7 linked regions of the Homo sapiens genome follow. The gene in region 3 interacts genetically with the main gene of each other region. Each region holds a gene or a part of one and is shown on either strand. Other genes may lie near its edges.

What was found.
Region 1: changes in PSMD12 (region 3) and COPS5 together harm fitness less than expected from each alone (positive genetic interaction), as found in Homo sapiens cells (one large-scale study listed by BioGRID).
Region 2: changes in PSMD12 (region 3) and RFC4 together harm fitness less than expected from each alone (positive genetic interaction), as found in Homo sapiens cells (one large-scale study listed by BioGRID).
Region 4: changes in PSMD12 (region 3) and EIF3H together harm fitness more than expected from each alone (negative genetic interaction), as found in Homo sapiens cells (one large-scale study listed by BioGRID).
Region 5: changes in PSMD12 (region 3) and CNOT1 together harm fitness less than expected from each alone (positive genetic interaction), as found in Homo sapiens cells (one large-scale study listed by BioGRID).
Region 6: changes in PSMD12 (region 3) and CARS1 together harm fitness less than expected from each alone (positive genetic interaction), as found in Homo sapiens cells (one large-scale study listed by BioGRID).
Region 7: changes in PSMD12 (region 3) and EXOSC9 together harm fitness more than expected from each alone (negative genetic interaction), as found in Homo sapiens cells (one large-scale study listed by BioGRID).

The regions. Positions count from the first base shown.
Region 1 is NC_000008.11:67,048,634-67,052,133, reverse strand, and holds part of COPS5 (COP9 signalosome complex subunit 5), read left to right. Parts: intron 1-792; coding exon 793-904; intron 905-3,500. UniProt on the Homo sapiens protein: Probable protease subunit of the COP9 signalosome complex (CSN), a complex involved in various cellular and developmental processes.
Region 2 is NC_000003.12:186,792,983-186,796,482, reverse strand, and holds part of RFC4 (replication factor C subunit 4), read left to right. Parts: intron 1-1,705; coding exon 1,706-1,825; intron 1,826-3,500. UniProt on the Homo sapiens protein: Subunit of the replication factor C (RFC) complex which acts during elongation of primed DNA templates by DNA polymerases delta and epsilon, and is necessary for ATP-dependent loading of proliferating cell nuclear antigen (PCNA) onto primed DNA.
Region 3 is NC_000017.11:67,349,578-67,353,077, reverse strand, and holds part of PSMD12 (26S proteasome non-ATPase regulatory subunit 12), read left to right. Parts: intron 1-2,741; coding exon 2,742-2,849; intron 2,850-3,500. UniProt on the Homo sapiens protein: Component of the 26S proteasome, a multiprotein complex involved in the ATP-dependent degradation of ubiquitinated proteins.
Region 4 is NC_000008.11:116,724,824-116,728,323, reverse strand, and holds part of EIF3H (eukaryotic translation initiation factor 3 subunit H), read left to right. Parts: intron 1-2,151; coding exon 2,152-2,308; intron 2,309-3,500.
Region 5 is NC_000016.10:58,525,327-58,528,826, reverse strand, and holds part of CNOT1 (CCR4-NOT transcription complex subunit 1), read left to right. Parts: intron 1-178; coding exon 179-352; intron 353-721; exon of another isoform or gene 722-904; intron 905-2,688; coding exon 2,689-2,838; intron 2,839-3,467; coding exon 3,468-3,500.
Region 6 is NC_000011.10:3,029,924-3,033,423, forward strand, and holds part of CARS1 (cysteine--tRNA ligase, cytoplasmic), read right to left. Parts: intron 1,654-3,500; exon of another isoform or gene 1-1,653. UniProt on the Homo sapiens protein: Catalyzes the ATP-dependent ligation of cysteine to tRNA(Cys).
Region 7 is NC_000004.12:121,799,845-121,804,122, forward strand, and holds the start of EXOSC9 (exosome complex component RRP45), read left to right. Parts: upstream 1-1,478; 5' UTR 1,479-1,580; coding exon 1,581-1,646; intron 1,647-1,982; coding exon 1,983-2,077; intron 2,078-2,829; coding exon 2,830-2,949; intron 2,950-3,070; coding exon 3,071-3,173; intron 3,174-4,278. UniProt on the Homo sapiens protein: Non-catalytic component of the RNA exosome complex which has 3'->5' exoribonuclease activity and participates in a multitude of cellular RNA processing and degradation events.

The sequences.
Region 1 (3,500 bases), on a different chromosome or scaffold from region 3:
TCTCTAACCCTTAGTTGGTAGGTGATTCATTTTATATAGCACTGTAGCATCACTTATTGTTATTCAATGTATATCATTATATTTAATTTTGATGTGGGTTTAGACCACATCCCCCATATAAATGTTGAGTTCCTTAAGGTAAAGATGTCTCATGCTTTTTTATATCCACTGATACACAGAAGCATGTGTAAGTTTAAGATGTAAGTTTACATCTTAAAAATATATGTATTTTTCAGACATTTAACTAGATTTTTCCTTACTATGCCCTGATGATAAATTAGGCACCTTTGAAAGTGGGAGCAATTATTTTAGATGCCTTAAGGACCTACCTTAAAATTTGCTTTTCAAAAAGCAGTAGGTCCTAACTGGGGAATTAGGAAGGGAAGAATGGAATCCACATGTCATTTTTATTATTTTAAAGAGGCTAACAAAAATTATAGTTGACCCTAGAGAGGCAGCTTATTAAGTTTATGTGCTGTTGGCTTGAATTTATGAACTCAGTAACAGGAATAAACTTGTCATTCAGAAGTTTTGACTGGTTGTTAATAACATTTGGGGAATTTCTGGGCTCTACAGAAAAAAAGGAATAAAACAAGAAGTTTAGTAGGAGATTTGGATCCACAACCCTTGAAGTGTGAGGAAACCATGGTTAGCTATTGCCTTATTGGAATAAAGACTAAAATGTGAATATTTGAGAATAAAGTGTAACTCACTTAAATCTGGCCATAAGTTTTATGTGACGTAGTTGAATTTTTTTTTTTACTTACTAAATTTTATGCTTTTATTTCATAGATATTATGCCTTAGAAGTCTCATATTTCAAATCCTCTTTGGATCGCAAATTGCTTGAGCTGTTGTGGAATAAATACTGGGTGAATACGTTGAGTTCTTCTAGCTTGCTTACTGTAAGTACTATACTTGTAAAGAATGCATTTGAATTTTATCTAAGCTTCATAGCCGTTTAATATCTGAAACACTGTTTCACAGAAAGGCTATACCTGACTTGGCCAAGACACCAGGGCTAGGGTGGGATTCTGCACCACCACAGCTGGATTAGGATTCTAGGCCAATTCAGGATCTGTGTCATGACCCACAGAGACCAAGTCTAAGTAGCAAACAGAGTGTCCAGATCAGGGTGAGATCTGCCCCTGCCATAAGGAGATTTATGGATTAAAAAAATACACATATTGATTTTTGTGTATCAAGTGTCTCAGCTTGGACTCTGGTTACAAGTAACAGGATACCTAATGAAACGAGCTTAAACAAGAAAGGGAATTGTGTAAGTTGCAAAGTTGAGGAATAGGGCTTAACTCAGGCACAGCTAAGTTTGCATTCAACCAATATTATGAGGTCTTTTTTTTTTTTTTCTTTCTCTTAGCATTGATTTCATCTTAGTTAACGCTAGTTTCAGGCTTCATGTGAAAGCAAGACGGCAGCTTTAGCTTTAGACCTCCAAGTCTCTCAGCTTCATGTTCAAAAAGAAGGTCAAGATACACACACACACACACACACACACACACTCTCACACTCACATATTTCCAGGTCAAGATACACACACACACACACACACACACACTCACACTCACATATTTCCGGGCAAAACTTCATTGTGTCTGACTGGCTTTACTTAATCACATGCCCATGTTTAGGCCTGGTGTGGGCCAACTGAATAAGCTTGATGAGCGGCTTGCGCCACGGCAAGTGCTTTACTGCTGAGCCGCAGCGTAGAAAACTCCTTCAGGAGCTCAAGGACTAAAAATGGGGAGGAGAGGTTCCCAGAGTGAATCAGAAGAGCATTACTTTAAAGCAGTAGATACTAGGAGAAAAAAAAAGAGGCCGGGCGCGGTGGCTTACGCCTGTAATCCCAGCACTTTGGGAGGCCGAGGCGGGCGGATCATGAGGTCAGGAGATCGAGACCATCCTGGCTAACACGGTGAAACCCCGTCTCTACTAAAAATACAAAAAATTAGCCGGGCGAGGTGGTGGGCGCCTGTAGTCCCAGCTGCGCGGGAGGCTGAGGCAGGAGAATGGCATGAGCCCCGGGGGGCAGAGCCTGCAGTGAGCCGAGATCGCGCTACTGCACTCCAGCCTAGGTGAAAGAGTGAGACTCCGTCTCAAAAAAAAAAAAAAAAAGAGAGTATCACTGAATTTTTTCTGATAATATCATAAAAACTTAACATATTTGGTAGGATATTATTTAACAAACTTCTCTATATTTAGAACTTAGGAACAATTTTTTTATTTTTCTAAAAAAGTAGGCCATTTCATATACTGCAGTATATATAGTGGTTAGAACCACAGGATTTAGAATTAAATAAACTGGGTTTGGAGAATATGAGCTACAGCAGCAGGAGTCATAGCAGGACCGGCACTTAGAAGTTTCTTATGCTCTTTGATGGAGTATTGGTTGAAAGGAGTACAGCTGAAACTGTAACCAAAGGAGGCATTACGCTTCCAGAAAAATCTCAAGGTAAAGCATTGCAAGCAACAGTAGTTGTTGGATTGAGCTTTCAAGGAAAAGGTGGATTCAACCAGTTAATGTGAAAGTTAGAGATAAAGAATTATTCTCCCAGAATATGGAGGCACAAAAGTAAAGAACTACTTTGCAACTCTTCAGGTTTATTCAGTTGACCTGGAAGGCCAAGGATTTTTTTTTTTTCTTTTTCTTTTCGAGACAGGGTCTCTGTCTCTGTTGTCCAGGGTATTGTGGTGGCACGATCTCAGCTCACTGCAGCCTCAACTTCCCAGGCTTGAGCGATCCTTCTGCCTCAGCCTCCCAAGTAGCTGGGACTACAAGGGTGAGCCACCACACCTGGCTAATTTTTGTATCTTTTTGTGGAGACAGGGTTTTGCCACGTTGCCCAAGCTGGCGTTGAACTCCTGGGTTTGAGCAATCTGCCCGCCTTGGCCTCCCAAAGTGCCATTACAGGCCGTGAGCCACCATGCCCAGCCAGATTATTTCTTATTTAGAGATGCTGACATTCTTAGAAAGTATGTAGACTGAAGTAAATCACTATTGAAATGCCATCAACATGAAGCTGCTCATTGCACTTAAGTTCTGAAATATTTAATTATGTAAATAATTGCCATGTCTCTTCTATAATAAACAAATGATATCTATACTAAAAAATAAAACTGACTTTGAAAACAACTCTGCCACTTTACTAGTTCTGAATGACTTTCAGAAAGTTATTTAATGTGACTAAGCATTTCTTTGTTGTAAAATGTTGATATGCTACATACATCATTAAGTACTCTGAGAAAATTAAATGGGCTACTTTATATAAAGCAATTAGCAAAGTGTCTGGCATATAATAAAGCCTCAATTAATGATTTTTTTTAATTTGGTGCATTATATTCATGGGAAAAGACCTCACTTAAGCCTATTATTTACTGGAATTTTTTTTTTTTTTTTTTTTGAGATGGAGTCTCACTCTGTCACCCCGGCTGGAGTGCAGTGGTGCAATCTCAGCTCACTGCAACCTCCACCCCTCCAGGTTT
Region 2 (3,500 bases), on a different chromosome or scaffold from region 3:
CCACTGAAATCACCAAATGTGTAAGGATTATTAGTTATGTCAAAATGTAAAAGACAAAGGGAGAAGCTGCTATGTGCCTAATATTTTATTTGACAGCAATTTTTTATTCTCAGTAAAATTATAGAAGAACTTTTTTGATTATTCCACAACTCAATCAGATAGAACCAATCTGAATCAGCCTTAACAGTTGTTTATTATTACTTAGAGTAGGTCAGTCCAGATTATACAACTTTTTCTATATCCTTTATGAAATAATGTTTGTCTTTAAAGAACTTACTTTAACAGTGAATTTCATATTTAATATTGTGGCTTTAAAATAGAAAATAGATGCATGTAAATGTTTATGTCCATAAACATGCTTAGGATACCATGCTGATTAGGAAAAATAGAGATGAAACTAAATCACAACTCTTGTTTTTTATTTAAATGTGTGTGTGTGTGTGTGTGTGTGTGTGTAAAAGACTAGAGGGAAGTTTCAAAAACAGTGCTTTGACAGTGTGCCCACTTTTTTCTTTTGATTTCTCAAATTTCTCTACAGTAAGCATATATTACTTTTAGTAATTTTTATTAAAACTCACTTTAAAAACCTGCTCATGTTTTAATCCATTAATTTTCCTTAATCCAGTAGGTTTCCTTATAGCAAACTACCCTGTGGAATTTATTTATTTATTTGTTTATTTATTTATTTTTGAGACAGTGTCTCGCTCTATTGCCCAGGCTGGAGTGCAGTGGTGCGATCTCGGCTCACTGCAACCTCCACATCCCGGGTTCAAGCAATCCTCCTGCCTCAGCCTCCTGAGTAGCTGGCACTACAGGTGCCTGTAACCACGCCCAGCTAATTTTTGTATTTTTAGTAGAGACAGGGTTTCACCACGTTGGTCAGGCTGGTCTCGAACTCCTGACCTCGTGATCCACCCGCCTCGGCCTCCCAAAGTGCTGGGATTACAGGCATGAGCCACCACATCCGGCCGGAAATAATTTAAAATGTGCTATATTATAACATTATTTAAAATTACAGTATTTAAAACTATCTAGATGTCTAACAATAGAAGAATGTGAAGTAAATGATGGTACAGTCATAGGATGGAATATCATATGACTATTAAAATGTTATTTACAGTGGTTTTGATAATATGCCAAGATACTTATTATAAATGCAAAGTGGAAAATCGATTTAAAATTTTATATGTGGGGCCAGGTGTGGTGCCTCACACCTGTAATCCCAACATTTTGGGAGGCCAAGGTGGAAGGATCACCTGAGACCAGCCTGGCCACATAATGAGTCCCTGCCTCTACAAAAAGTAAACAAAATTAGCCAGGTGTGATGGCATGTGCCTATAGTCCCAGCTAGTTGGGAAGCTAAGGTGGGAGGATCATTTGAGCCCAGGAGTTCAAGGCTGCAGTGAGCCATCATCATGCCACTGTTCTCCAGCCTGAGTGACAGAGCAAGACCTTGTCTCCAAAAAAATAAAAAGAAAAGAAATTGTATATGTTATGTAATGTCTACATTTTTTTAAATGCATGGAAAAAAGCCAAAATGTTAACTGCAGCACTCTGCTGAAGCGAGAATGCAAAAGTGATTGTGTGCCTTCTATCCATGTTGTTTACTAGGTGGATTTTAAACGTCTGCAAAGTGTGCAAATGTTAAAATGTGATTTAAGCCTACTTGTGCTCTATGTTTCATATTTGTTTCATTTTGAGATAGGCCTGAACTTTTCCGATTAAGAGTTCTTGAGTTAAATGCATCTGATGAACGTGGAATACAAGTAGTTCGAGAGAAAGTGAAAAATTTTGCTCAATTAACTGTGTCAGGAAGTCGCTCAGAGTAAGTAAATTTGCCCTCCCTCCTCCATAGCATGTATTATTTTAAATATGTATTTCTGCCATCGCTCCTCAGCCTTTTGGCTAAGATCAAGTGTATTTCTGCCAAATTGTCAACTTTTCATGTTAGAAGACTATCCTGCCTGAGGTAAACAGGGATTTAATCAACTACTTATGCTCCTTAGGTGGCAAAGGTCCAGGATTACATTGGTGGTACCTAGACATATGTGTAAATTTTACATGAGCACATTTCAAAATTTGTGAAAGTGAATGACTAATTTTTGATATGCACCTTAAATTGATGGTGCAGTCAGTCACAACCGCTATAGCACCTAATGTATTTTTATGTGAAATGAAGACTGGGAGGTGGACTAAAAGACTCTGAGATCCCTTCTACCATTAATACTTGAAATCTGTTTTCTTGGTATAATTTTCATACAATTATGTTAATGCCACTTTTGGTGGGAGAAAAACTTTAATGGCAGATTACCAAAAATCAATGTACAGAAGGTAATAACCCGCAACGTGGGAGAAAATATTTACAAATCATATACCTAAAAAGGTACTTATATCTAGAACATATGAAGAACTTTAAAAACTCAGTAATAAAAACAAATAACCCAATTAAAAAATGGGCAAAGGCCGGGCGCAGTGGTTCACACCTGTAATCCCAGCACTTTGGGAGGCCGAGGCAGGTGGATCACAAGGTCAGGAGATCGAGACCATCCTGGCGAACATGGTGAAACCCCATCTCTACTAAAAATACAAAAAATTAGCTGGGTGTGGTGGCGGGCGCCTGTAGTCCCAGCTACTCGGGAGGCTGAGGCAGGAGTATGGCGTGAACCCAGGAGGCAGAGCTTGCAGTGAGCCAAGATCGCACCACTGCACTCCAGCCTGGGCGACAGAGCAAGACTCTATCTCAAAAAAAAAAAAAAGGCAAAGGATCTGCATAGACATTTCGTGCATGTGTAATAAGCACATTAAAAGATGCTCATCAACATCATTATCCATTTGGGAAATGAAAATCAAAGCCACATTGAAATACCACGTAACTCCCACTAGGATGGCTATGATAAAAAATACAGAAAATAACTAGCATTGACAAGGATGTGGAGAAATGGTAAACCGCATACATTGCTGGTTGGAATGTAAAATGGTACAGCCTCTTGGAAGACATGTCTGCTCAAAAACATGTACACAAATGTTCACAGCAGCATTATTCTTAATAGCCAAAACATGGAAACAGCCCAAATGTCCAACCGATTAATGGATGAATAAATGTGGTGTATCTATTTGCCATAGTATTTGACAATACAAAGGAATGACGCAAACACATGCTACAATATGGATGAACCTTTAAAATATGTTAAGTGGAAGAAGTCAGCCACAAAAGACTGCATATTATATGTTCCATTCATATCATGTCCAGAATAGGCAAATCTATAGAGATGAAAGTAGACTAATGATTGCCTAGAGCTGGGAATGACTGGGGGAAGAAGAGTGACTCCTAATAGGTACAAAGTTTCTTTTAGGAGTGATAAAAATGTTCTAAAATTAGATTGTGGTAATGGTTGCACAACTTTGTGAACATACAGAAAAACACTGAATTGTACATTTTAAATGGGTGAATTGTATGGTACGTGTATCTTTCAACAAAGCTGTTAAAACCAATATACATA
Region 3 (3,500 bases):
GTCCATAAGGAATATGTCCAAAAATCCTCTCTGGAGACCAGAAACCACAGATAGTACAAAACCATATATCCACTATGCTTTTTCCTTGTTGAGAACTTTCACCTTTTCATTTAAAGGAGGCACTTTATGGCTTCGCTTTGGCATATACAAATGGCCAGCATCACCACTCTTGGGTTTTGAAGCCATTGTGAAGTATAATAAGGGTTGCTTGAGCACAAGCACTGCCCTGGATACAGTGGATCACATGAGACTGAGATGGCTACTGAGTGACTAGGGTGGGTAGTGTGGAGACACTGGACCGAAGGGTGATTTGAGGGACTGCATTTGATTTCATCACTACTCAGAATGGTGTGCAGCTTAAAGCTTATAGATTGTTTATACATGGAGTTTTCCATTTAATATTTTCACACCACAGTTGACCATGGCTAACTGAAACTGGAAAGCAAAACCTTCGTAAGTGGAGACTACTGTAGTTGTTGTTTTTAACCCCATCTGATTTCTGTTAATGTATTTTTTGCACAGCTTTTAGAATTATCAAGTTGTGTGCTCTTCTAGAAATTATTATTATAATTAACTTTACAGGCATCCTATGTTTTGTGAGACACTACATGTCCTAGGGCCTTGAACTTATTGAAAGAGTTATAGTTTACAATAAAACCATAGCTTTCCAGAATGCCTGGGTCTCTAAATAGCCAGTGTTTCAGATAGTTAAAAGTTTAATACTGCTTGTTCTCATTGATAAATGGAAGTTAAACAGTAGGTGCACATGGGCATGAAGATGGTGAGACCCCTGTCTTTACAAAAAAACTTTAAAAATATTAGCTGAGTGTGGTGGCACATACCTGTAGTCCCAGCTGCCCAAGAGGCTGAGGTGGGAAGATCACATGAGCCCAGGAATTTGAGGTAGCAGTGAGCTGTGGTCATGCCAGTGCACTCCAGCCTGGGTGACAAAATGAGGCCCCATCTCTTTAAAAAAAATTTTTTTTTTTTTTTTTTTGAGAGAGATTCTCGCTCTTGTCGCCAGGCTGGAGTGCAGTGGTGCGATCTTGGCTCACTGGGTTCAAGCAATTCTCCTGTCTTAGACTCCTGAGTAGCTGGGACTACAGGCATGCACCACCACACCCGGCTAATTTTTGTATTTTTAGTAGAGACTGGGTTTTGCCATGTTGGCCAGAATGGTCTCGATCTCTTGACCTCGTGATCCGCCGGCCTCAGCCTCCCAAAGTCTGGGATTACGGGCATGAGCCACCGTACCCAGCCAAAAAAATGTTTTTAATTAAAAAAAAAAAAAGGTGGAAATAACAGACGCTGAGGACTCCAAAAGCAGGGAGGATGAAAGGAGGTGAGGGTTACCTGTGTATCCAAAATTACCTATTGGGTGCAATGTTCACTGTTTGGGTGATAGGTTCGCTAGAGGCCCATACCTCACCACTATACAATATATTCATGAAACAAACCTCCACATGTACCCCCTGAATCTAAAATAAAATAAAACCACCTCCACAACAAAAACATTTAGCCTGAGCTGCTTAAACATTAAATGTTTTTCGTGGAAATCTTTCTAAGATATTCTATTCACTTTTCTGCTGCCTTAACCAAAATATACTTAATGTAATTTAACATTTTCTTGATGACTCATGGTCCTAATTATTATTATTATTATTATTATTATTATTATTATTATTTTGAGACAAGTCTCGATCTGTCTCCCAGGCTGAAGTGCAGTGGCGCGATCTTGGCTTACTGCAAGCTCCGCCTCCCGGGTTCACACCATTCTCCTGCCTCAGCCTTCCAAGTAGCTGGAACTACAGGCATCCGCCACCACGCCTGGTTAATTTTTTTGTATTTTTAGTAGAGACGGGGTTTCACCATGTTAGCCAGGTTGGTCTCGATCTCCTGACCTTGTGACCCGCCCATCTCTGCCTCCCAGAGTGCTGGGATTACAGGTGTGAGCCACCACGCCTGACCCATGGTCCTGATTGTTAGTGATTATCATATATTGCTTAAAATCTAGATCAAACATTGGCAAATGATGGGACACAAATCAAATCCCACCCGCCTCCTATTTTTATAAATAAAGTCATTGGGACACAGCCACACTCATTTGTTTTTAAGGAGGCAGAGTTGAATAGTTGCCACAGAGACTGGCCCACAAAGTCTAAAATAACTACTTTATGAACATTTGCAAAAATTTACAGAAAATGTTTGCTGATTTGTGACCTGGATCATAGAATGTTAGTGCTGAAGGGAGTGTATTCTAGCCCCTTGATATAACCTGTGAGGAAACTGAAGGCATGAGGGTCTCTGGCTCTCAGTGTCACATGGTATTGAGGTGAATTTGGGTGACTGTGGCTCTTCCTCCCACCCGGGTGGTAGAACCGTTTCGCCTTTTGCCTCTGCCACTGCCTTTTTCCTCCTCAGTCACAGTGTCTGCAGGTCATGGCTTCAAGCCGCTGTGGACCTCTGCTTTCTCTTCCCCTAGTCAGATGCCATTTCTTCCATGTTTTCCTGCTTGGCTGCATCTCTGCATCTGAGGTTTTCCTGACCTTTACTGACTTGTTACGGGGTACTCGGTACTTTTTAGGTATCAGTGAGATTTCGATGTGATGTTCTTTATGACATTTTGGTGTCTAGAGTTACTTGGGAAGACCAAGTTCGATCATTGCTCTTTGATCAATAAAATACATTTTTTCGCTCTGTGAGGAATGTATTTTACTTATGAATGGTTTTTAATATTTTAGGCTGTTGCCAAAATGGTTCAACAGTGCTGTACTTATGTTGAGGAAATCACAGACCTTCCTATCAAACTTCGATTAATTGATACTCTACGAATGGTTACCGAAGGCAAGGTAAATTTTCTGTTGACATAACTCAAAATGATATGAACTGTTTTTTCTGTATTCAGAGATACTTAATGTATGTAGATATTTTGTATATTTTTATGTTTATTTTTTAAAGAAATACACAAAATGTCATCACTGTAATTCAACCAATAATGTCTTTGTACATCCCTTTCTGCAAATGAATCTATTTAAATACTGACAGCCATGGTATATCTAGATTTTTCTGGGAATTGGGTATCTTATCACGGATTTAAATGTGACTTTAAAAAAAATGAATAAAAATTCTACAGGGTCAGGGTGTGGGAGAAGAGCATTTTAGACATAGAGGAAATAATATTCAAAGATAACAAAGTAAGAAATGTATAATAGATGTAGGAAGCTGTAATTGGTTTGATATTATTGAAAATAGGGTAAGCAAGCCTAAGCATGAAAATTCATTCACTAGGTGCTTTAGGTTATACTGTAGTCATATTTTTGGTGTTTAATTTGTTGGAAATTATAAATCTACTAACATTACTTATAGCTACAAAAATGTTAACAACTTTAATACCTAGCAAAATTAGATATTTTTAAAGAAGGTAGTCTTGTATTTAAAGATAAGTCAGAATTAGAGTATTAATTGAAGACATTGGACTACATATAACACACTTTTCAAAT
Region 4 (3,500 bases), on a different chromosome or scaffold from region 3:
CTGCCTCAGTTTTCTTATCTATAAAATGAGTATTAACAGTACCTTTCTCCTAAGGTGGTTGTGAGAATTACATGATAGGGTAATACATGTGAAATAATTAGATTATTGCCTGTCATACAATGTTTAGTAAATGTAATGTGCTGTTATTAACTGGTCATTAGTTTCTTTTTTTCTTTCATAATTGGTTTATTGGTCGTGTTGATGATCAGTACACAGACATTTCAATTTGTACACAATTCTTAACATATATACTGAAAATCTAAAAAGCCATGTGTTGTAATTTTTAAAAAGTTATTTCAGTGACTTTCCAGCTTAAAATTGGGAAGCAAATTTTCCATAAGAGGCTATCAAGTACCAGTATCTTCACATGTTAGTAAGCTGTTACATAGATCTCACCAATTCACAGTATAATACCATATAGACTACATACTCAAATTTTCAATCTTCCACAGCACATTAACAAAGTTCATTAGAAAAGCAGGACTACCACGACCAAAGATGTTACAGTGCACAGAATTATGACAGGGAGAGCCATGATCAAAGAGTGTTTTTCTTTAGGAAACAATTCTACTAAAAAATAATGTGGGAATGAAAGTAATTTAAAATGTTCAAGACATTAAATGCAGGACTGCAACTCCATATTGCCATTTAGTATGCTTTGTATTACAGGATATAAAAACTAACCCCCCAACTATGGAATGTTAAGCTGACACTCAGGACAGTCAAACCCTCCCATAATTCAGTATCTCACACAAACCTGTGTTTACAAAATAGTTGGTAACAGTATTCCTCTGGGTTGTACAAGATGGGAAATAGGGACCACTGATAAGATACAGTGTGTTATGATATCAGTCAAACTTGGCTTCTTTATCTCTGGCGTCATCAGAGGCTGGACTCTTCTCAGTTTTAGTTTCTTCGTTTTGTGCAGGTAAATTTCTTTAGTTTCCTGGTTAGCCACTTTGGCCTGTTTTCCCTTTGCTCCCTTTTTCCCTTTGTTTGCACTTTTTTGTCTGAAGATTTATCCTTTCCTGCTGCCTTTTTTTAGCTTCGTTTCCACTTTGGCGGGAGCAGGTTTAGCTGACAACCGCATTGATTCTCTCTTAGGCTGTTTCTTCACCATCCGTGTGGCTGAGCTGACCTGTGGGCTCAGGCTGCACACAGAAGTAGCTGCTCACCCTGTGTGTGCCTGGCCCACCCATTACTTCGTTTCTAACAATAATATATTTGTTTTAAATGAAACACTAATAACGTACAAATAAATTGTCATTTTCTTGTTAGAATTATTTTTCCTCTGAGAACTTTACATTACAATTTTGAATGTGTTGCCTTTTGGGTCTTCAGGCCATGGGCTCATATTAAATATTAATGCTATTATTATTAATATGTGCCAGGCACTATAAAACACTTTACATATATTAACGCCATGTTGTAGGAATTATTAATGATTATGATTATTGCAGACTTTAATTTCTTGTCCACCTGTGCACGGTGTTACCTCTTATCTTTATGGGAATATTAAAGGAGAGAGTAGTAGAAGACCTGGTTATTCCATTAGAGGTTGCTTAGTGAATCCTTCTGGTTGAGGAAAACTAGATCATGCTGGAGACTATACCAACCAGATTGTTGTTGGATATGTGTGGGTACGTGTTCCCGTTGTTGCATCCTCTGACTATGGAGATGATCTGTTGAGAAAGGCAAAATGAGAATTTATCAGAAGGCTCTGCTTTCAGGTGTCCCGATAATTGAGACCTTTATCTCTGTGTCTTATTGATAGTTTTGTCATTTATGTGTCTATTAACAGGATCACTTTCTCAATAATAGCCTCAGGTTGAGGGGGTATTCTTTGATTTGGCTGAAGGAACTCCTGGATGCCAGACCATGGGGAAGCTTTGATTTAAGAGCATAACTGCTGTAGATGGACGTTTTTGACATGTAATCAAACTCCTGGAGTTTCAGATCTGCGTTTAGATTATGTGAGCTTTATTATTTATGTAAGGGTAAAGGAAAGGATTTGTAAGACATTTATTTATTCCTCTTATTTAATTTGTGGTTTTGCAAACCTAGTACAGTTTCTTTTGTTTTTTCTTAGAAATAAAGGAAATAATAAACTAGGATGGTTGTTAAGCTCCCTTCTGTGTGTGTATGTTTTAGGTGGTATTAAAGATAATCAAACATTATCAAGAAGAAGGACAAGGAACTGAAGTTGTTCAAGGAGTGCTTTTGGGTCTGGTTGTAGAAGATCGGCTTGAAATTACCAACTGCTTTCCTTTCCCTCAGCACACAGAGGATGATGCTGACTTTGATGAAGGTAAGGGTGTTCATCACAAGTGTGTCTTTGCAGTGCATACAAATGGATATTGACACAGGTCTCACCATAACTTTTGATAATGTGTGAATTGGGAATCTGTCAGGCTAGCCTACTTCACTTGATGTCTGATACTTTGGGAAAATTATATAAATTCTGGGAAATGAGGGTTTATACTATAGACATCATTAGTTTGGCCTTTACTTATTTGGAATTTGTGATTCTGATTTGTCATAGATTGGATAGGAACTGTGCTGATGTTGACTTTGTCAACATGAAATCAGCTTGCTAAATAAAGTTTTGAGGGACAAAGATCATCCTTATGTGTCTGTTATCCATTCCCTTCTATCCTCTTTTGAATAAGTCAGTGTTTAGAAAGAGATGGAGTTCAATTTTCTGCTTCAGAAAGAAGATACTCCTCAAGCATTTCAGAAATTTTATTTTTGTACTATAGGTGTAGTTCCTTTGTTAGCAAAGGCTGAGAGTAGTTAAAAGCTCACATCAAAGGCTAAAATCAGCATCTAGAAGATTTTTTAAAAATCAAGTTGAAAATAACTTCTCACTTGTTTGAAATCCCTGGTTTCATTTTCTGTGTAACTTTTTATTGTAAAAAGCACATAAAAATTTTAAGTATACATTACAGTAGTGTTAAGTGTATGCATATTGTGCAGTAGGTTTCTAGAACTATTTCATCTTGCAAAGCTCAAACTCTGTATCCATCGAACAATCCCTTTTTCCACCTCTTTCATCCCCGCAACCACCATTCTACTTTGTGTTTCCAAGAGTCTGACTACAGATACCTCATGTTAGTGGAATCATGTGGCATTTATTATTTTGTGAGTGACTTATGTTATTTAGCATAATGTCCTAAAAGTTCATCCATGTTGTAGCAATGACAGGATTTTCTTCTTTTTTCTTAAGGCTGAATAATAATTCATCATCTGTATATACCACATTTTCCTTATCCAGCCATCTGGCGATGGAAGTTTAGGTTGCTCCCACCTGTTGGCTATTGTGAATAATGCTGCAGTGAACATGGGTGTGCAAATATCTCTTCAAAATCCTGTTTCCATTTTCTTTTGGATATGTACCCAGAAGTGGTATTACATGGTAATTCTATTTTTAATTTTTTGAGGAACTTCTGTATGTTTTTTTTAATAGCAGCTGCACCATTTTACATTTCCAACCTTGCACA
Region 5 (3,500 bases), on a different chromosome or scaffold from region 3:
AATGGAAATATTTGATAAATCATCTGTGATAATGTTAATTAAAGCCTAAAACTTTTTAAGAAATGTTACTAAAGTATACTTCATTCTTTTGAGGGGGGTGGGGGGCTTAAGTTACAATAGGAAAATGTTACTCCATTTTCCTTAGTGTGGAAATATTTTTCTTGTTTTTTAAAAATAGGGCACTTTAAGAGTGCTGCTGGTTCTTTTGCATGATTTCCCAGAGTTCCTTTGTGATTACCATTATGGGTTCTGTGATGTGATCCCACCTAATTGTATCCAGTTAAGAAATTTGATCCTGAGTGCCTTTCCAAGAAACATGAGGCTCCCCGACCCATTCACTCCTAATCTAAAGGTAAGGTTCCAACTAGTTAAAGGAAAACTTATGTCTTAATATTTCAGTCCTTTCTCTGATAAGTAGACTGTTCAGCACTTTCCTACCCAACATAACACGCACACTATTAGTTAAGGGTACTCTTTAAAGGAAATAATGTTATTAAGCCTGATAGAAGGTATGATATTGTTGCTATTGCTGTTGCTGGTGAATATTGGTTCACAGCATTTTTCTAGTTGCTAGTTTTCATATTAATTTTGATATTAAATTTAGCTCTATTTACAGAACCACAGCTTAGGTGTTGGGGCAGTCATTTGCTGGGTGTGCCCCACATGGCAAAGAATTGCAGAACAAACAGACCTTTGTAATCTTTTTCTTTTTTTGAGGCAGAGTCTTACTCTGTGACCCAGGCTGGAGTGCAGTGGTGCAGTCTCGGCTTACTGCAACCTCCCCTTCGCTGGTTCAAGCTATTCTCCCGCCTCAGCCTCCCAAGTAGCTGGGATTACAGGCACTCGCCACCACACCTGGCTAATTATGTGTTTAGTGGAGATGGGGTTTCGCCATGTCAGCCAGGTTGGTTTTGAGCTCCTCACCTCAAGTAATCTGCCTGCTTCGGCCTCCCAAAGTGCTGGGATTACAGGTGTGAGCCACCACGCCCTGCCATAGTCTCCATATTTCACAGTTTTGTGTCTGTGCACTTGTGCAGTTGTTCCTTGGTCCCTTGCTATTCTTGGAGGATTGGTTCTAGGACCCACTGGGACACCAAATTTTAAGTATGCTTAAGTCCTGTATGTAAAGTGGCATATAACCTTTGCATATCCCCTTAAATGACATCTGTAGTGCTTATGATACCTAATGTAGTGTAATGCTATTATGGAAATAACTATTTTAAACTATATTAATAACTTTTTAAAATTTGTGTTTTTTATTGTTGTATTATTATTTATTTGTATTTATTTATTTATTTTTGAGACAGAGTCTCACTCTGTCACCCAGGCTGGAGTGCAGTGGCGCAATCTCAGCTCACTGCAACTTCCGCCTCCTGGGGTCCAGTGATTCTCCTGCCTCAGCCTCCCAAGTAGCTGGTACTACAGGTGCCCGCCACCATGCCTGGCTAATTTTTTTTTTTGTATTTTTAGTAGTGACGGGGTTTCACTAGTTGGCCAGGCTGGTCTCAAACTCCTGACCTCACGATCTGCCTGCCTTGGCCTCCCAAAATGCTGGGATTACAGGCATGAGCCACTGCACCCGGCCTTTATTGTTGTATTATTTTTTATTGACCCCATCATCTACCTCTACCTTCACCCCCCATATTTTCGATTTGAGGTTAATTAGATATGGAACCTAAGGGTATGGAGAACCCACTGTATTTTTTTGTAAGTTGTTGGAATAAAGGAGAGAGAGGACCACTTAAAATCTCACCACCCTGACATGGCTACTATAGTTTGTTTAAGAGACAGGGGTCTCGTTGTTTTGCCCAGGCTGAAGGGCAGTGACTATTCACAGGTGTGAACATAGTGCACTTCAGCCTCAGGCTCCTGTGCTCAAGCCGTCCTCCTGCCTCAGCCTCCAGAGTAGCTGTGACTAGAGGTGCACACCACTAGAAGTGCCCAGCTATAGTTTAGATGTAGTCTCTACTCTTTCTGACACATGCATTTTTTTTTTTTTTTTTTTTTTTGAGACGGAGTTTCGTTCTTGTTGCCCAGGCTGGAGCGCAATGGCGCGAGCTGTGGCTCACTGCAACCTCTGCCTCCTGGGTTCAGGCGATTCTCCTGCCTCAGACTCCCGAGCAGCTGGGATTACAGGCACCACACCCAGCTAATTTTATATTTTTAGTAGAGATGGGGTTTCTCCATGTTGGTCAGGGTGGTCTTGAACTCCCAACCTCAGGTGATCCGCCTACCTCGGCCTCCCAAAGTGCTGGGTTTACAGGCGTGAGCCACTGCGCCCGGCTTCAATTTTTTTTTTTTTTTTTTTTTTTTTTAAGGAGTAAGTGTGATGTCTGGTCTTGCTGGGGCTTCTTTTCAAAGACTCTTGGTGAGTGAGGAATCTTATTCCGGATTATTATTTTGAAACCGAAGTCCAAGAAAAATCAGTTAGTTGTGCAAATTAGACCTTTGCCCAAAAGGTATCTTGCCTCTGGGAAGGAAATACATTATAGAGTGGGAAATTTTTATCATTTTGAACCAAGATTCTTCTAAAGAAAGAAAGACTGATTAATAAAATGTGGCAGCTGTGCTCTTCAAGGCATTTATAGTGTATATAGTTTTAGAAAAACAGTCCCACCACTTAAGCATAGATGTAATTTACTAATAAAAATGATTCTGCTTGTGATTCTTGCATTTTATCTGTGGCAGGTGGACATGTTGAGTGAAATTAACATTGCTCCCCGGATTCTCACCAATTTCACTGGAGTAATGCCACCTCAGTTCAAAAAGGATTTGGATTCCTATCTTAAAACTCGATCACCAGTCACTTTCCTGTCTGATCTGCGCAGCAACCTACAGGTTAATTGGTTTGGCTTAAAACTCATCTACGTCTTCCATATAAAGCACTTTCTATGTATGGTCCTGTGTGTGGTCCATTTGGGAGTTAGTCTTTTATTGTCATTTCCATCAATTGGGTGAGGTTGATTAACTGGATTTACGTATTTTACTAGTTCATTTAATCAGTGATATTTTGCTACAGCTTTGGACAAGACAGCACTAGAAGAGTAGACCACAGACAGTCATTAGCTGTTGGTACTCCTAGGATTTTTCTGAATACCTGGATGCTGATTTACATTTCTCTATAGGATATTTTGGAAAGTTATATATTTACAGTCTGTATATGCCATGCAACTACAACTTTCTCTCCAAATCTTTAATTGGCACAGTGCATATTTTGATTTTATAAACTTTACTTTAGAGCTGTGCCTTGAGCTTCGGCTTCCTGAGGGAAATCACATTTCTCTTATTGATACAACCACCTTTGGAGCATCTGTGTGTTTGTTAAATAACCTCACAAATTCAAGCAAGTGAATCACAATAAATGTTTGGCCTTTCCATGAAGGTGTAAGAAGGGTTTAGAAATACTGGTGCTAGAATTGGTCCTCTGCAGGAGTAAGCATAAGGAGTTCTGTTTTGCTCATTTTAAGGTATCCAATGAACCTGGGAATCGCTACAACCTC
Region 6 (3,500 bases), on a different chromosome or scaffold from region 3:
CATTGACTGAAGATGCCATCCCCACTTGACACACCATGGAATGGGAGTAAAAACCACCAATCCCAGCAAAACATGGCACCTATGTGAACCAGGTCCTGACCACACACACTCTAGGCATGAGACACGCCCCAACTGCACTCATGTCAGAAAAGAGAAATGTCTACCCTCCGCCATCTTGGAGGGACCTAGAGTCTCAATGCACTGACGTGGACCCAGGACAGGGCGTGACACCAAGCAGATGGTCTGTGGCCTACTATGGGAAGGGGAGGCAAAGAACCAAGGCTGGAGAGAAAAAGTGTAGGAAAATGGCCTGGCAGACAGCAAGGACACAGGGTGGACAAAGCCACAACACAGACAGAGAAGGGGCACAGGGCCCACGTGGGCCAGGTTCCTGATGCAATCCCTGCCTACAGCTCCTGAATCAAACAGATGTGTTAAATGTATTGCAGGCCTGCAAGTGGCAAGGCACGTCTGCAGGAATGAGCACACCCTCCCCACCGCGGCAGGGCATCCAGTGGGCAGACAAGCACCAAAAGCAGGGTGTGCGCTCTGGGGAGCAAAGGCTGCCAAGTCTGCTGCCCGAAAAGCAAACACTGGGCCTGCCCCAAGTACAGGGAAACGCGCATCCTGGCCCTCAGGATCACCAAGGTCACGACCCAGCAAGAACCGACATCCTAATCGAGGTCACCAAACACCCAAGAACATGAGCAACTGTGAATGGGAGTCAGCAGAAACGACAAACAGATGGACGCTTCAGATGGAGGAGTTATCAGATACATAATAAAATCCAGTAAATATTACAGGCTTAAAGACATAAGGACGGACTCCCAGATGACAGGCAATAGCAAGCAGGGACAGGCCAGCAAAGCGGCCCAGCTGGATCTGAAAATAGAAGCAAACGGAACCTGCAGAGATGAAATCTATTAACAGGCGAAACAGTCTTATCCATCCTACTGAGTGACTGTTTCACTTCCTGTCTGAAGGAGAATTTGTGAACAGGAAGACAGAACTGAAGAAGTCATCCAAAATGAAACAGAGACAAGAAGGAAAATTTTATGAAAGACAGGTTAGGAGACACGGAGAAGGATGAGATGAAATGATGAGACTCACATCTAATTGGCAACCCAGAGGAGAGGAGAGAGGGAATCGAGTAAAGGTGATACTTGAAGACACATCTGAGAATTTCTCAAAACCCATGCAACAATCCAGCCCCGGGAAGCACACAAAATATCCAATAGGATAAGTAAAAACAAATCTCTTACAATGTCTTTGTGAAATAGCAGAAAACTGAAAAGAGAGAATACTTTTATAATGCGCCTGATAGAAAAGACATATTTACCAATCAAAGAAAAGTAATTTGAAGGGCAGCCGATGTTTTCAACAACAGCCAACAATGGAAGCCAGAAGACGGCAACCACCTTGAACAAACAGGGAAATATACACACTTCAAGATAGACAAAAGCTGCTTCCCACCAATACTTCTAAGATAATGTTTCTAAAACTTGCCTGATGATAGGGCTGGAATACTCAATGTTGCTGGTCAAGCATACAGATCAACAATCAAAATGCATAAATACAAAATGATAAGAGACTTCTGCTTTCCAGTTTCACATAAGTCAGGAGCTTGGAAGTTGCCACTCTACCTAACAACAGGTAAAAAGCTGAATAAACTGAAAAACCAACTCTTCTTAGATCCATAAGAGAAGTTAGGTCATAGGGCAAACCACTGCCCCCTAAACTGGAGAGACCAACAGGAGAAGACAGACAATCACAACTTACCAGAGCAGAGACTCATAAGCTGAAAATTCTGTGGGAACCAGTGTTGGGGGAGGAAAACCAGGACTGTAACAGAGATTGCTGCAGGCTTGGTGTAGGCAAGTCAGACAGTTGAAAACCCCAGGGACCCAGTCATAGGGGACCCCATACTTTTGTGAGTTTTACCTCTAGGAACCTGACCAGGCCTCACAGTGAATATTGGAGAAAAATCCCCTTGTGTTTCCAATAGCAAGAAGGGAAAGGAAGCATTCCAAAATATACCAGTGCACTCTGTTCTTTTCTTTCTCCTTCCTTCCTTCCCTCCCTCCCTCCCTCCCTCCCTCCCTCCCTCCCTCCCTCCCTCCCTCCCTCCCTCCCTCCCTCCTTCCTTCCTTCCTTCCTTCCTTCCTTCCTTGATGGAGTCTAGCTCTGTCACCAGGCTGGAGTGCAGTAGTGCAATCTCAGCTCACTGCAACCTCCGCCTCCCGGGTTCAAGCAATTCTCCTGCCTCAGCCTCCCGAGTAGAAGGGATTACAGTCACGTGACGCCACGCCCAGCTAATGTTTGCATTGTCAGTAGAGACGGGGTTTCACCATGTTGGCCGGGATGGTCTCAATCTCTTGACCTCATGATCTGCCCATCTCGGCCTCCCAAAGTGCTGGGAGTTCAGGCGTGAGCCACCGCGCCCGGCCAATAACTGGTAGGTCAGAAGTATAGGTAACAAACTACTACTTTCAACTGGCATCTGAATTGGGGACAGTCTTATGGGACTGAGCCCTTCAACCTGTCAGATCTGACGCTTCCTCCTGGCAAACTGTGTTGGAAATGAATTAAATTTTAGGACTCCCAGCTGATGCCTGCTAGAGAACTGACTGGTTGTCGGGGCAGAGGTGGGCTGGGTGAGGAAGAAATCCCTATGCATTTTGGTGATCAGAGGTGAAGTATTCTGTTTAAAAATTTTTTCCGATCTGAAATGGCTGCAACACTGTAGGATTCCAAGTATGTGACATTCTGGGAAAGGCAAAACTACGGAGACAGTAGAAAGACTAGCTGCTGTCAGGAGTTGGGGTGGGGAGGAAGGGATAATAGCTGGAGCACAGAGGATGTTCAGGGCAGTGAAACTATTCTGTGTGATACCGTAATGGTGGATACGAGATAGTATTTGTCCAAACCCATAGGATGTAACAATCCTGAGAGTGAACCCTAAAGTAAACCACGGACTCAGGGTAATGACGCTCAGAGCAGGTTCGCTGACTGTAAGAAACGTACCCCCTGGTGGGTGCGGATGCTGGGGGAGGTGACGGTGAGGTGGGTAGGGGATATATATAGCCTCTCAATTCTGATGTGAACCAGAATCTCCTCTAAAAAAAAACTTTTTTTTTTTCTAAAAAGTGAAAAAATAAGGAGAAACAGACAAATTCATCATCAGAGGGGGAGTTTTGTTTTGGTTCTTGTTTTTGTTTTTTTAAGAAACTGTATGAATAGGCTAAGCCAACAGGAAGAATTAGCAAAGACACACAAAATATTAACCACACGGCCAACAGGTATAGCTAAGTGGATGGCATGTGGAACTGTGCACTAGGGGATTAGACGGAATCTTCTCAAGCACAAGAGAACATTCAGAAACCAGCACACACAGGGGCCACAACACAAGTCTCTGTTCACAGATCCAGATTGGGACAGACCATACTCTCCAACCACTGGGTAATTAAGTTATAAGCGAATAACAATAAGTTAATATGAAA
Region 7 (4,278 bases), on a different chromosome or scaffold from region 3:
AGTGGTTAGTACCCTGTAATCCCCTTGCCGATTTTGAAAATTAATCATTTCTGTCCACTTTCCTCCTTCTTCACAATTTCTCTCTCCAGACCATGTGGAGCTCATCTCATCTCAGTTTTTGCATATGTTACTCTTTCTGCTTGAAACACTTTTCCTCTCCAGATGGCATCAAGGGTGCTCCTGCTCAACACCAAAGATTTACTTTACTTTAATGTCACCGCTACAAAGTCACCTGTTCCTGCAACTACCCCTATTAAGATAGCATTCCTATTCTCAGAGAGCACTTAACACTGTATGAAATTGTTCTATTTGTTTAGGGTTTTTTGCCTTTTCCAAAAAGAATATAAATTCCTTGAAAGGATCTTGTCTACCCTGTTTCTCCAGCACTTAAATTATTCTTGGACAGAGTAGGCCCTCTTCAAGTATTTATTGAGTACATGGATTGCAAGTGGTACAAAGTGAGACTAAAATGTATCACTGGTAGAAAAAACTTGTGAGAAGCTACCAAAGAAGCCAGAGAAAGACTGCGTAGGAGTTACAGTGCCTACCACCTCTAAAGCAAAAGGAAACAAAATAATAATATGCAAACACTTAAATAGTGCTTATTCCATGCCAGGCACTGTTCTAAACATTTTATGTATATATTAACTCATTTTTATTCCTCAGAATAAATAGGTTTCTCACTTCCCCTGCTTTGTTTTTGTTTTTGTTTTTTTTTTGCCGGTGAGTAATGTGAAGCACACAGGTTAACTTGCCCAGGGTTATAGTAGTTAATGATAGCCTTAAAATTTGAACCCTGGCAGTGAACACTTTTTAAAACTACTATTTGATACTGCCTCTCCAAAAAAGCTGAGTGGTTGGCAGCATGGCCCCGCTAAGGCTTCTCTGTGACCGTAAAAAAAAGTCTATCGACTTAAAATAACTGGAGAGGGGATAAGAAATAAACGGTGCATTTACTTTCAGTCCACAGTAGTAGTAACATCGTTAGTTACTACGTGCGAACATTCTCCATTCTCATCAACTTCTCAGATCCCACAAGATTTCACCTTTGGCCACAAAAACATCCCATTTCACCAATTTATCTTTCTCCCCCAACCCTTATGCCGCCTCATTCCAGTGTTTGTTCATTTAATCTGCTCCAAATCCTGCATCTGCGGCTTTCCAGGGACCAATGTCAACTCATCTGTGAAATTGCAGAAGTACATGTCTAGTCTCCACCCCGTGAGAGGACTGAGCAAAGGGTGAAGTGTGCGAGCGGTCTACTGATAATAATTTCTATCACTCTCATGGTTATTTTAAGTATCCTTTTCTCCTCTGCACTTTATGAGAAAAGAAACGGAACTTCACGTTCAGAAACGGCCTCCCAAAGCCGCAATGGCTTCTCGCAGCTCGCTGGCCTTCCCCAATCACGCTTTGAGTCTGCGCAGTAGCTGCAGCCCAAGCCATTTCCCATTTTTCCGCCGCCGCGCCTTGATGACGTAATTTTCCTGCGCCTCGGGGCGAGCAGCGGCGCGCAAGGAAAGATCGGGTTCCGTTTTTCCCGCGGATTCTGGTGCCTGTGGGGCCGGTGACCCAACACCATGAAGGAAACGCCACTCTCAAACTGCGAACGCCGCTTCCTACTCCGTGCCATCGAAGAGAAGAAGGTATGGTTTGGTGCCCGCAGAATTGCGCGCTGCGTGGGCGCTCGGGTCTCAAGGTGTGGACTGATACCTGGCCCGCCTGGGCCCGGGGAGCTACTAGGGGAACGACCGGCACGTTCACCCCATCCCTCAGGCTTTATTTATTTTTTTTCGACAGGTTCTTTTCAAGGCTCCAGTCACCGCAGCAGTTGTCCATGCTGTAGTTTCCACTTTCCTGTATGGGCGGGCTGGTTAGGATTCCACTTTCCCCCAAGTGCTTAGCCCAGGGCCAGACAAAAAGTAGTTGCTTAAGAAATACTTGTTGAAGGAATAAATTAATGAATGAATTTGTGCTTACAGCGGCTGGATGGCAGACAAACCTATGATTATAGGAACATCAGGATCTCATTTGGAACAGATTACGGATGCTGCATTGTGGAACTTGGAAAAACAAGGTAACAGGATTTAAATGAGATACACATTCGGAAGGGAGAAGTTTGAAAAAAGACCTTATTGACTTGGTTGTTTATAAAGCAGCTAAGAAGTCTGGACAGTATTCTTTGTTTAGCTGACAAAAATAAGTATTTTTTTATGCGAGATTTTTTGCTTTTGTGGTCACACTTGAACTTTTTAATCATAAACGTATTTTCTGTCACGTATCACATAGTTCTTTTCTGACTTCTATAAATCGTATAGACAACTAGTAGTGATCATATGGAATTTGTTTCTCACACTAATATAGAGATCTTGAGCATCTTGTCATTAAGTGTACATCCTGCTTTCTTTTTCCTGAGTGACATGAAAATTAGGTTTTCAGATATTCATTTGAAAGTTGTGAGGCTATTTGGTCACATAATGGTGGTGAACTATGCCATGTGAAAACCTTTAAGAAATCTCAGGTTTTCATGCCATCTTGTATCAATAAATACTTGCTTTAGAGGTAAAGGTCACTGATTTTTAAAACAATCTGTGGAATAGTAAACATTGTAATAAGAAGAGAGGTGTTTTTTCTGTCGTGTTTTTAGTTGTACCAATTTATGTTTTATTTCTGTGTATATTATACTTTACATATAATTTTTATCTCCTATGATTTATTTGGCTGAGTATGATATTACTCACATTAAGATTGAAACTTGTTATCTGTTTCAGTTTTTTGTTTTGGAAGGAGAGTCTATTTGGTTAATACTTTGTAACTTTATCTTTGCAGAGTTCTTGGACAGGTTTCCTGTGAACTTGTGTCTCCAAAACTCAATCGGGCAACAGAAGGTATTCTTTTTTTTAACCTTGAACTCTCTCAGATGGCCGCTCCAGCTTTCGAACCTGGCAGGTATTTAAATCTTTTTCTTAAGTTGCTTTAGTCATAGGAGAACCTAACAGCAGTGAGCTTTTGTTTTAATACCTGGTGTTATATTTCATGACATTAGCCCATTCCTATTTTCTCCTTATAGGCAGTCAGATCTCTTGGTGAAGTTGAATCGACTCATGGAAAGATGTCTAAGAAATTCGAAGTGTATAGACACTGAGTCTCTCTGTGTTGTTGCTGGTGAAAAGGTGGGGAATATGCCCATAATTCTTAATCTTAGGATGAATACTGTTGATCATGGATCCCGGTATCTATCCTTTTATTCTCAGAACTTTAGTTAACTCAGTATTGTACTGGTTTGCTTCACTTCAGATGTTCTTGAGTGATACCCTTAGAACTTTGTGCTACCTCTCTCTCTCTGAAGGGACAAAAAGGGTGTCCCTTCAGAGGACACCCTTTTTCTTAAAGGTTTCTAAAAGGTTTTCACCCTTTATCTTAAAAGGGTGAAAATAGCAACTTAGATTTTTGTGTAAAAATATTTTATTCAAAGAACTTGTGGCTTTTTCATATAATCTCTCATTTTCTACATGAGTTCATAGAAGCAGGTAGTTTTCCTTTTTCATGCAGAACTCAAGAACAGATGAAATCCTTCATTTGGATAGGTTTATCGATTTACACAGGGCCACACCATGTCAGTGGCAGGGATAACTTTGAAAATCTTAGTCCCAATAAATTGTGCTGCATTAGGATATTAGAATTTTATTTTATTTTATTTTGTTTTATTTTTTTGAGATAGAGTCTCACTCTGTTGCCCAGGCTGGAGTGCAGTGGTGCAATCTCAGCTCACTGCAACCTCTGCCTCCCCTGTTCAAGCGATTCTCCCACTCAGCTTTCCGAGCAGCTGGAACTACCGGCGCCTGCCACCACGCCCGGCTAATTTTTGTATTTTTAGTAGAGATGGGGTTTCACCAGCAGGCTAGTCTTGAACTCCAGACCTCAAGTGATTCACCTGCCTTGGCCTCCCAAAGTGCTGGGATTACAGGCGTGAGCTACTGTGCCTGGCCAGAATTTGATTCTTGATTAGGGTATTTTGACAAGCATTTTCATCCCAGAGAAGTCATTTAGCTTCCCATATTCCATACCTAAGCATAATACTTCCTATTTGCATTACTTGTAAGGTTATTAAAAATATCACAAAACCTAAAAGTTTAATTTTTTTTAATTTTTGAAAACTTTCATTATTTTCTCTGAGGGACAGGGTGACACTCTCGTCCAGGCCGGAGTACAGTGGTGTCATTATAGCTCACTGTAATCTTAAACTCCTGGGCTCAAGAGATCCTCTCTCCTTAGCCT